4 separate regions of the Homo sapiens genome follow, and regions 1, 3 and 4 are each linked to region 2. The links come from fine-mapping of genetic effects on gene expression. A gene starts in region 2. Each other region holds a variant in brackets. All regions are shown on one strand. Distances are from middle to middle. Region 1 has its middle 22 kb from the start of NPEPPS. Region 2 holds the start of EFCAB13 (EF-hand calcium binding domain 13). Region 3 overlaps EFCAB13 (EF-hand calcium binding domain 13). Region 4 has its middle 77 kb from the start of NPEPPS.

Region 1 (2,681 bases), 190 kb before region 2:
GCTGAGGCAGGAGGTTTCCTTGAGGCCAGGAGTTCCAGACCAGCCTGGGCAACATGGTGAGACCCTGTATCCACAAAAAATTTTGACAAAATTAACTGGTCATGGTGGCATGGGTCTGTAGTCCCAGCTACTCAGGGGGTTGAAGTGGGAGGATTCCCTGGGCCCAGGTGGTCAAGGCTGCAGTGAGCCATGATCGCACCACTGCACGTCAGCCTGGATGACAAAGTAAGACTTTGTTGGCTGGGCGCGGTGGCTCACACCTGTAATGCCAGTACTTTGGGAGGCCAAGGAGGGCGGATCACGAGGTCAGGAGATCGAGACCATCCTGGCTAACACGGTGGAACCCCATCTCTACTAAAAATACAAAAAATTAGCCAGGCGTGGTGGCAGGAGCCTGTAGTCCCAGCTTCTGAAGAGGCTGAGGCTGGAGAATGGCGTGAACCTGGGAGGCGGAGCTTGCAGTGAGCTGGGACGGCGCCACTGCACTCCAGCCTGGGCGACAGAGCGAGACTCCGTCTCAACAACAACAACAACAACAACAACAACAACAACAACAACAAACAAACAAAAGGCTTTGTCTCAAAAATAAAATAAAATACACTAAAAATAATTTAATTTAAAAATAAGGATAAAACCATGTTAGTGCTCAATATTATTACCGAGGAGAATGGCTCTTGAATAGCAGCAAGTTTACTATGTTGAGGTTTGTATTTATTTTCTTTTATTTTTTTTTTGAGACAGAGTCTCGCTCTGTCGCCCAGGCTGGAGTGCAGTGGTGGGGTCTCGGCTCACTGCAAACTCCGCCTCCCAGATTCAACTGATTCTCCTGCCTCAGCCTCCAAGTAGCTGGGATTACAGGCACACACCACCACACCCAGCTAATTTTTTTGTATTTTTAGTAGAGATGGGGTTTCACCATGTTGACCAGGATGGTCTCTATCTCTTAACCTTGTGATCCACCCACCTCAGTGTCCCAAAGTGCTGAAATTACAGACATGAGCCACCGTGCCTGGCTCTTTTATTTTATTATTATTATTATTATTATTATTATTATTATT[ATTT/T]TGAGACAGAGTCTTGCTCTGTTGCCAGGCTGGAGCACAGTGGCACGATCTCGGCTCACTGCAACCTCTGCCTCCTGGGTTCAAGCAATTCTCCCGCCTCAGCCTCCCAAGTAGCTGGGATTACAGGCTCCTCCCCCTACCATGCCCAGCTAATTTTTTATTTTTAGTAGAGATGGGGTTTCACCACGTTGGCCGGGCTGGTCTCGAACTCCTGACCTAAGGTGATCCACCCACCTTGGCCTCCCAAAGTGCTGGGATTACAGGCGTGAGTCACTGCGCCCAGCCCCTTATTTTATTTTTTGAGATGGAGTCTTGCTCTATCACCCAGGCTGGAGAGCAGTAGCGTGATCTTGGCTCACTGCAACCTCTGCCCCTCGGGTTCAAGCAATTCTCCTGCCTCTGCCTCCTGAGTAGCTAGGATTACAGGCACACACCACCATGCCCAGCTACTTTTTTTGTATTTTTAGTAGAGATGGGGTTTCACCATGTTGGCCAGGATGGTCTCTACCTATTGACCTTGGGATCAGCCCACCTTGGTGTCCCAAAGTGCTGAAATTACAGACGTGAGCCACCGTGCCCAGCTCTTTTTTTTTTTTTTTTTTTTCCGAGATGGACTGTTGCTCTGTCGCCCAGGCTGAAGTGCAGTGGTGTGATCTTGGCTCACTGCAACCTCACCTCTGGGGTTGAAGCGATTCTCCTGCCTCAGCCTTCCCGAGTAGCTGGGATTACAGGCACCTGCCACCATGCCTAGCTAATTTTTGTATTTTTTTCAGTGGAGACAGGGTTTTGCCATGTTGGCCAGGCTGGTCTTGAACTCCTGACTTCAGGTGATCCACCCACCTCGGCCTTCCAAAGTGCTGGGATTACAAGCGTGAGCCACCACACCTGGCCTAATTTTTGTGTTTTTAGTAGAGATGGGGTTTCCCCCATGTTGGCCAGGCTGGTCTTGAACTCCGGACCTCAGGTGATACACCTGCCTCGGCCTCTCAAAGTAGTGGGATTACAGATGTAAACCACTGTACCTGGCTGAGGTTTGTATTTCTTTTTCTTTTCTTTTCTTTTTTTTTTTTTTTGAGACAGAGTCTTGCTCTGTCGCCCAGGCTGGAATGCAGTGGCACGATCTCAGCTCACTGCAACCTCCACCTCCTGGGTTCAAGCGATTCTCCTGCCTCAGCCTCCTAAGTAGCTGGGATTACAGGCGGGCGCCACCACACCCAGCTGCTTTTTGTATTTTTAGTAGAGACCAGGTTTCACCATGTTGGTCAGGCGGGTCTCAAACTCCCAACCTCAGGTGATCTGCCCACCTCGGCCTCCCAAAGTGCTGGGATTACAGATGTGAGTTACTGCGCCCGGCGCAGTTGATTTAAAAAAAAAAAAAAAACTAAATGGGCTGGGCATGGTGGCTCACGCCTGTAATCCCAGCACTTTGGGAGGCCGAGGTGGGCACACTTGAGGTCGGGAGTTCGAGACCAGCCTGACCAACATGGAGAAACCCCATCTCTACTAAAAAAAAAAAAAAAATTAATTGCACAGGTAGGAGTAGGACTGGTGTGACAGTATCTTGTGTGAAAAAGGTTCAGGTCTCACGAAACCCAATGCAGTCAGAGTTTCATGAAAAGA
Region 2 (2,688 bases):
GCATTTCAGCCAGAAAGAAAAGTAAGTACAAAAGCCCCGAGGCAAGAAGAATGTTCAAGGAATAGTGGGAAGGCCCCAGGAGGCTGAAGCAGGAGAGATCAGAGAGGCTAAGTGAAAGTGGCATATCATGGAGGACCCCTAGATGACAGTAAGAACTGTGGCTTGTACTCTGAAGGAGTGACAAGCATTGAAAGAGTTCTGAGGAGAAGGATTACATAATCTGAAGTTCTTTCTGAAAGGATCACTCTGGTTACTGTGAGGAGGGAAATCAGGTAGGTCTGGGTTCCTGAATGCCAAGTGAAGAAAGTACTTCAAGAGTGAGCAATCAGGCTGTGCATGGTGGCTTATGCAGGTAATCCCAACACTTTGATGCGGGGGTGGGGGTCTAAGCAGGAGGGCTGCTTAAGGCCAGGAGTTCAAGACCAGCCTGGGCAACAGTGAAACTCCCACCTCTACAGAATTTTTTTTTTAATCAGCTGGACATGGCGACCTTAGTCCCAGCTACTCCAAAGACTGAGCCAGGAGGATCTTTTGAGCCCAGGAGTTTGAAGCTGCAGTGGGCTATGATTGCACCACTGCACTCCAGCCTGGACGACAGAGACCTTGTCTCAAAAAAAAAAAAGGGGGGTGGGGTGGGCGGTTAAGATCAGTACTGAATGGTTCGCTAGGTTTCACAACACGGAGGACACTGACAAACTTGAAAGGAGCCATCTGGGTGGGGTGGTAAGGAGACAATGTCGTCAGAGTGAGTACAAGAGAGAACGGGGTAAAGAAATTGAACCCAGCCAGTAGGGTAGGCTCTTTCAAGGAGTTACGTTGTTAAGAGAAATAAGGCAGTAGCTGAGAGGAAAATGGGGCTGTGAGGCTTTAAGATGAGAAAAACAAAGGCGTCTTCACTGAAGCATGACTCTGTATGACATCCTTTCACAAAATACCTTCCTCTTTCCTCTCATGCCACATTTCCCTCACAAGCCGCCCGACTCGCTCGCTTTTCTCTCGCCAGAGGGACTGAAAACGTCATTAATACCAACTGCATACACAACTCCATTGCAGCTACTGCCATTCATGAACGTTCAAACTTTCGTCACCCTGTTTTCATATTTGTGTAACAAACGTCGAGTGAACGAACCTCCACCTCTTCCAAGAACCCACGCTGAGGAGGCTTCCCATAGACCCTGCTCTTACGAAGCCAACGACTTCTACAGGAAGAAAGAGGACCTGTAAGCTAGCGAGTGAACGACCCGCAAGATGGAAATGAGTGTGCTAATAGAGGTCTCCGCCTCCCGCTGAAGGAGCAGGGAAGTGACACCACCCCCGGGACCGCCAGCCTTCTACAACAACCACCATTTCTGAGGAACCACCTGATCAGTCTCAGTCACCCTTCAATCTGCCCCTTTGTCCCACTCAGTCCCCTCACTGTTCCTTTCTGGAACCTTCCTTCACCCAGCCCCACCACTGTTCTCCTTCCTCCCTCGCACCCTACTGCATTCTCCACCCTCCACCTCGAAGGCTCCCCTCCCAACTCCTCAGCGGGTCTCGCCTCCCCTCCCCACCTCTGTCCCCCAAGGGTCCCACTACCGGCCCGAGCTGCCCTCCCTTCCTCTCGGCTGGAGGCCCCCGCGCTCTCTGTGGTCAGCCCCTGCCGCCCCTCGGGCGGCGCTGCTCTAGCTCTGCAGCCTTCCCAGGATCCCGCGCCGCGCGGCCCCGCCCCCGCGGTCACCTGACCGAGCCCGACGCTCCGCCCACCGACCACCCCGAGCGGAGCGGGCCCAGGACCCTATCGGCTGTCGAGCCGGTGCTGCCGCGGCCACCGCCACCGCCCAGGGGCTCCGGGGCTGTGGGGAGCGGCTGAACTCAATACCGCCTCCGCGCTGACTGGAAGGCACTGCGGCCGCGCCTGCCTGCCCCACCTCGTAAGGGCCTGTGACCTCACGAGGCCAGCCGCCGGGCGCTGCATTCGAGCGGTGGGGCTCCTGTCCGTGCGCTTTCCTCCCGCAGCCCCGGCCGGGATTCCGCCCTCCGTCCTTGCCACCCGCTCGCCACTCTTCCCTAATCGCTGTTCATTCTCCGGTGCGCTGTCCCGCCATGGTCTGACCCCACTTCAATCTTACCTTCGGTCCGTCCTTTGAACACCCCGACCCCCGACCCCTTTCTTCCAAAACATTCCATCCTTCTTGGCTTCTGCTACTCAATAATGGACAGCAGCTCGAAGGCCATGTGTCCCACGGCTTTGCTGAAATTTGTCTCGGGTTGCCTTTAAGGAGACTGTCGTTTCCTTTTGAAAGAGATACTTTGGTTGGTTTGGTTTTCTTCTGTGTGTTTGTTTTTCCTATGTATTTATCGTATGCAGTTGGGCAAAATACTTAACGCTCCCTGAGTCTCGATTTTCTCATTCTTCCAGGGTTGTGGGAATTCAAAAATATATACGTAGTGCTCAATAAATGTTACAATATTTAATCCCTTCCGTGATACTACTGTGTTCATTTACATCTTAAACCTTGCTTTGTAGGCATTCTTTAATATTTTATTTAGATTTTTATTATTATTAAATATATGTACAAATCATAATTGTAAATATTTAATGGGGTACAATGTTATATTTTAATATATGTATACAATATGGAACGACTAAGTCAAGCTTAACATATCCATCACCTTGTTTAACGTTTTTTATGGTGAGACATTTGA
Region 3 (2,688 bases), 35 kb before region 2:
ACCATCTCACACCAGTTAGAATGGCGATCATTAAAAAGTCAGGAAACAACAGGTGCTGGAGAGGATGTGGAGAAATAGGAACACTTTTACACTGTTGGTGGGACTGTAAACTAGTTCAATCATTGTGGAAGTCAGTGTGGCAATTCCTCAGGGATCTAGAACTAGAAATACCATTTGACCCAGCCATCCCATTTCTGGGTATATACCCAAAGGACTATAAATCATGCTGCTATAAAGACACATGCACATGTTTGTTTATTGCGGCACTATTCACAATAGCAAAGACCTGGAACCAACCCAAATGTCCAACAATGATAGACTGGATTAAGAAAATGTGGCACATATACACCCTGGAATACTATGCAGCCATAAAAAATGATGAGTTCATGTCCTTTGTAGGGACATGGATGAAATTGGAAATCATCATTCTCAGTAAACTATCGCAAGGACAAAAAACCAAACACCGCATGTTCTCACTCATAGATGGGAATTGAACAATGAGAACACATGGACACAGGAAGGGGAACATCACACTCTGGGGACTGTTGTGGGGTGGGGGGAGGGGGGAGGGACAGCATTAGGAGATATACCTAATGCTAAATGACGAGTTAATGGGTGCAGCACACCAGCATGGCACATGTATACATATGTAACTAACCTGCACATTGTACACATGTACCCTAAAACTTAAAGTATAATAATAATAAAAAAAAAATTGAAAAAAAAATTAAACAGATTGAAAGCCGTGTCCAACTGCTAAATTTATATCCTCCCTGACCACTACACCCCTTAATTAGCCTTGACAAAAAAAAAAAAAAACACAATTCCCATTATCAATTTCAGACGGAAAATCATTTATAGTCAGACTAGATTTTCTTGAAATTCATCATATAATAAACTAATGATTACTAAGTTCTTTGATAAGCACAGTCAAGGAGGAAAAACTGGGCATTATTTGTTCATTCGATTAGTCTTTTTTTTAATTAATTAATTTTCTTTTTTAAAGACAGGGTATCTCTCTGTAGCCCAGGCTGGAATGCAATCACACGATCTCGGCTTACTGCAACCTCTGCCTCCCCAGCTCAAGCGATTCTCCCACCTCAGCCTGTTGAGTAGCTGGGACTACAGACACGTACCACTATGCCC[C/T]GCTAATTTCTTTGTATTTTTGTAGAGATGGATTTTTGCCATGTTGCCCAGGCTGGTCTCGAACTCCTGGGCTTAAGTGATCCACCCGCCTTGGCCTCCCAAAGTGCTGGGACTACAGGCATGAGCCACCATGCCTGGTCTCAACTAGTCATTATTGATCAAGTGAACAAAAATAGCAGAGGAAGGGACCTCCAGAAACCCTCTGCTCCATAAAAGCAATGAGAACTCTGGCAAAAATTATCAGAACCAACTTGTTTCAAAACTCTGAAAATAAGCCAAAGGCTTGCAGCTATCCGAGGAATTTCTTCAAGAAAAATGACTGAGTCTCAATAAGAACAGTGAGGTTTGTGGCATTTAAACTTGCCCTATTCCCATCTACCCATCTCCAGGTTCCCTGGAGCATTGAAAACCAGTACTCCACAATCATGATGAAAATGTATGTGTGTACTATTGAGGTGAGAAAGGCCTCTTTAAGCACAACTCAAAACTCAGAAGACATAAAGAAAAAATAATAAATTTTGTGATAAAATGTAACAGTCCCATTCCAAAAACCAAAGACACCAGTTCAAAATTAAAAGAGAAACAACAGACTAGAAGAAAACATTTGTAACATACATAACAAAGGATTAATAGCCAGAATATGAAAACTCCTACAAATCAATGAGATGAACAACCCAGTTTTTTAAATGAAAAGTATATGTGAAAAGGCAATTCATAGAAAAAATATATAAATGACCAGTAATTATATTAAAAGATTACTAATTTCATAATTGAGAAATATAATTAAACAAGATAGTTCCTGCAAAACAAGGTGGCAAAATTTCTTTTTCTCTTAAGAAAAAGATATTTGCATTTTTCCCTTTTATTTTTCTCTAGGGAGTCTCTTGATTTCTAACTGTATGCTTGATCTTTTTACTAGTTTCTATGAGACCTAGGTCCTTTGCTTCCACTCTGCCTAGTAATTGATAACTCATTTTGCCTTGACAAAACATAAATTATATGTATGTATGTGCATATAAAAAGAATTCTCAGGTCAGTATTAAACTGCAGCAATCTTGGGTTAAAGAAGGTCTTTCACATCTTTATACACATATATTGCTTGGATATTTTATTACAACAATATATTCAAGAATTATGTGTGTTCTTTTAAAAGGAACAAAAGAAACCTGAGAGTTCTTGATTAGTCTCAGAACACTGTCCACAAACAGAAAATAAGGTCAAAATAGGAAACCAGGACTTGAAAAATCAAGGAATATAGGGAAGTAAATAAGCTATTCTAAGTTGTGATTCAAAAAGTGGTCTCTACACGCTGCTCTGTCTGTCCGAGTGAAAGTTGCAAGTTAGTCCTGCCTCCTATCCATCATTTTTCCCTACTGTCTGGAACTCAACTTACATTTTTTTCTGACTATAGATTTATATGTGTGTTTGGACTCCTAAGTACTGACCACAGATACATACATATAATTTATGTTTTGTAGCAGGGCACAGTGGCTCACGCCTGTAATCCCAGAACTTTGGGAGGCCGAGGCAGGTGGATCACCT
Region 4 (2,688 bases), 130 kb before region 2:
TCACTCTGTCACCCAGGCTGGAATGCAGTGGCATGATCTCGGCTCACAGCAACCTCTGCCTCCCGGGTTCAAGCAATTCTCCTGCCTTAGCCTCCTGAGTAGCTGGGATTACAGGTGCCCACTATCACGCCCGACTAATTTTTCTATTTTTTAGTAGAGACGGGGTTTTTTCTGTGTATTTTTGCTTATAGTATATACTTACGAAAAAGTTGAATCGTTTTGCTTATATTTTTTGTTTGCTTTTGAAAATTACACAGCATCTTTTGTGTGTCAATAAATTGTGTTTCTGCTGTATTTTTAATAGATACTTGGTCTGTAATACAGAATATCATGAGATTCAACAAACTGTAAATTTAATTAAGCAACCCTTTGTGGTTGAAGGGCCTAGTTTGGTGTCTGGCATTTAGTATACACTGCTAGCATCTGTGTAAAAGTGTGTGAACATTTTGGAAGCTTCAAGAAATACATTGTGTGAAATTGTCCTCTAGAACTTACACTGTATTAGCTGTATGTGAGATTGCTCATAACTCTATATTTTGTTAGGTACACTGTGTTACCCTTAAAAAAATCTTTGCTATTCTTTCTAGTAAAAAAAATATTAAAATGTTTGAATGAGTTTCTTTGAGTACTGGTAAGGTTGGTTATTTTAAAGTTTTTTTTTGAAGATTATTCATGTATGTTAATTGACCTTCCATATCTGTTTATTTTAATATTATAATTTTTTTTACAAAGTGTTTTATATTAGAGATCATATTCTTTTGTCTCGTATATTTGCTGTGTGTGTTTTTTCCCATAGTTTAACGTTTGGTGTTTAATTTTATTATGTCTTCATAGTTTTTGTTATTGGGATTCTAGCAGGTTAATTTTTTCTAATGCACAAGTTTACATTTTTGAGGTAATTTATGCAAATGCTCTTTATTGTTTCTGCCTTTGATGCCGTGCAAAGAAAATCTTTATATTAATGCACTTTTTTTTTAGTGCTTTGGAAGTTCATTTTTAAAAACCTTGTTTTTCTTTTTAATTTTAAAAGCGTTAAAACTTACAAACAGGTTGCAGGAATAGTACAAAAGAACTCTTCCTTCCCTAAACCATTTGAGAGTAACTTACCAATATAATATGCTGTCACCCCTGAATACTTCAGAATTTCCCATAAAGAAGAATATTCTCCTGGGAATATACAATATAACATCA[A/C]AATAAGGAAATTAACAGCGATGCATTATTCCTGTCTGATCTTTGGAACCCATTCGTGTTTTTGTAGACATATTCTTTATAGCAAAAGGATCATAAACTGCATTTTGACTCTTTGGTCTTTTTATTTATTTTTCTTTTTATTTTTGTACAGAGTCTCGCTCTGTCACCCAGGCTGGAGTGCATTGGCGCAATCTTGGCTCACTGTAGCCTCCACCTCCTGGGTTCAAGTGATTCCCGTGCCTCAGCCTCCCCAGTAGCTGGGATTACAGGTGTGCACCACCACGTCCAGCTGATTTTTTTGTGCTTTTAGTAAAGACAGGCTCTTGCCATGTTGGCCCGGGTGGTCTCGAACTCCTGGCCTCAAGTGATCTGCCTGCCTCAGCCTCCCAAACTGTTGGCATTACAGGTCTATGCCACCACACCCAGTCCTCTTTTGTCTTTTTAAATCTCAAATAGTAACTCAGTCTTTCCCTGAGTTTCATAACTTTGATACTTCTGAATATTACAGGTCAGTTATTTTGTAGAATGACCTCCTATTTGGATTTGCCTGATGTTTCGTCATGATTAAAAGCAGTTATGTTTTTAGCAGGAGTATCACATACGTGATTCTGTGTTTTTTGTTTGCATCCTATCAGGTGGTACATGATTTCAGTTTTTCCTTGACCACTTGGTTAAGGTGTGTCTTTTAGGTTTCTCCACTGTGAGGTTAATCTTTTTTCTCTTTATAGTCAGTATGGATTTTGTGGGGGAAGTACTTCGCCTATAAACATCTTGTTCCTTGCGCCTTTTCCTCACTAATTTTAGCATTCATTGATGTTTCTTGGCCTAATTTATGACCAGGATTGATGGCAAGTAGTGATTTTCTAATTTCACCTTTTCTTTCACATTCATCAGTTGACGTTCCGCTGTAAGGTGAAGCTTTCTTTACTCCCTGATTATTTGTATTAGTATGGACTTATGCTATTTTATTTTAATGGGTCATATTCCACTAATGTCATTTATTTTGATTTACATACTGTCTCAGGTTTTCCTGGTGGGACCTCTTTAAGCCGGCTTCTGTGTCTTTTGACCTATCATTTCAGAGAAGCATTTCTCTACTTCTGACACAACAGTATAATCTAGGCTCATCTTATATTATTCCTGCTGTAGTTCTGAAATCACCATTTCTCTGAGGAGCCTTGATTCCTTTTAGGTGAGAATAATATTTAGAAGCCAAAGTGGGTGCTAGGTGTGGGTTATTGCTACTCTCAGTCAGCATGGCTAGGAAATTGTGTGTGTGTGTGTGTGTGTGTGTGTGTGTGTGTGTATTCCTACAGAGATACATGTTTCTATAAATTCACATCTTATATTGTTTTTATATCTAAGTAGAAAACTGTGGGCCAGGCACGATGGCTCACACCTGTAATCCTAGCACTTTGGGAGGCCGAGGCCAGTGGGATGACTTGAGGTCCGGAGTTCAAAACCAGCCTGGCTAATGAAACCCCATCTCTAATAAAA

Evidence for each region.
Region 1: its variant is fine-mapped to the expression of EFCAB13 in whole blood (INTERVAL, PIP above 0.99).
Region 3: its variant is fine-mapped to the expression of EFCAB13 in whole blood (TOPMed, PIP 0.96).
Region 4: its variant is fine-mapped to the expression of EFCAB13 in whole blood (TOPMed, PIP 0.96).

The regions. Positions count from the first base shown.
Region 1 is chr17:47,507,970-47,510,650 of GRCh38, reverse strand. No RefSeq gene overlaps it. Among named protein-coding and RNA genes, the nearest start is that of NPEPPS, 22 kb to the left of the region's middle. The variant ATTT/T (reference allele first, on the strand shown) is at 1,059.
Region 2 is chr17:47,322,965-47,325,652 of GRCh38, reverse strand. It overlaps EFCAB13 (EF-hand calcium binding domain 13), which reads right to left and starts at 1,698. Exons shown (of 25, transcript NM_152347.5): 1 at 1,579-1,698; 2 at 1,130-1,199. EFCAB13-DT (EFCAB13 divergent transcript) reads left to right here and starts at 1,752. Exons shown (of 3, transcript NR_110880.1): 1 at 1,752-1,964. RefSeq lists enhancers at 910-1,089, 1,130-1,219 and a silencer at 1,560-1,969.
Region 3 is chr17:47,357,649-47,360,336 of GRCh38, reverse strand. All of the region lies in intron 9 of EFCAB13 (EF-hand calcium binding domain 13), which reads right to left. Among named protein-coding and RNA genes, the nearest start is that of EFCAB13, 35 kb to the right of the region's middle. The variant C/T (reference allele first, on the strand shown) is at 1,147.
Region 4 is chr17:47,453,022-47,455,709 of GRCh38, reverse strand. It overlaps the pseudogene MRPL45P2. Among named protein-coding and RNA genes, the nearest start is that of NPEPPS, 77 kb to the left of the region's middle. The variant A/C (reference allele first, on the strand shown) is at 1,192.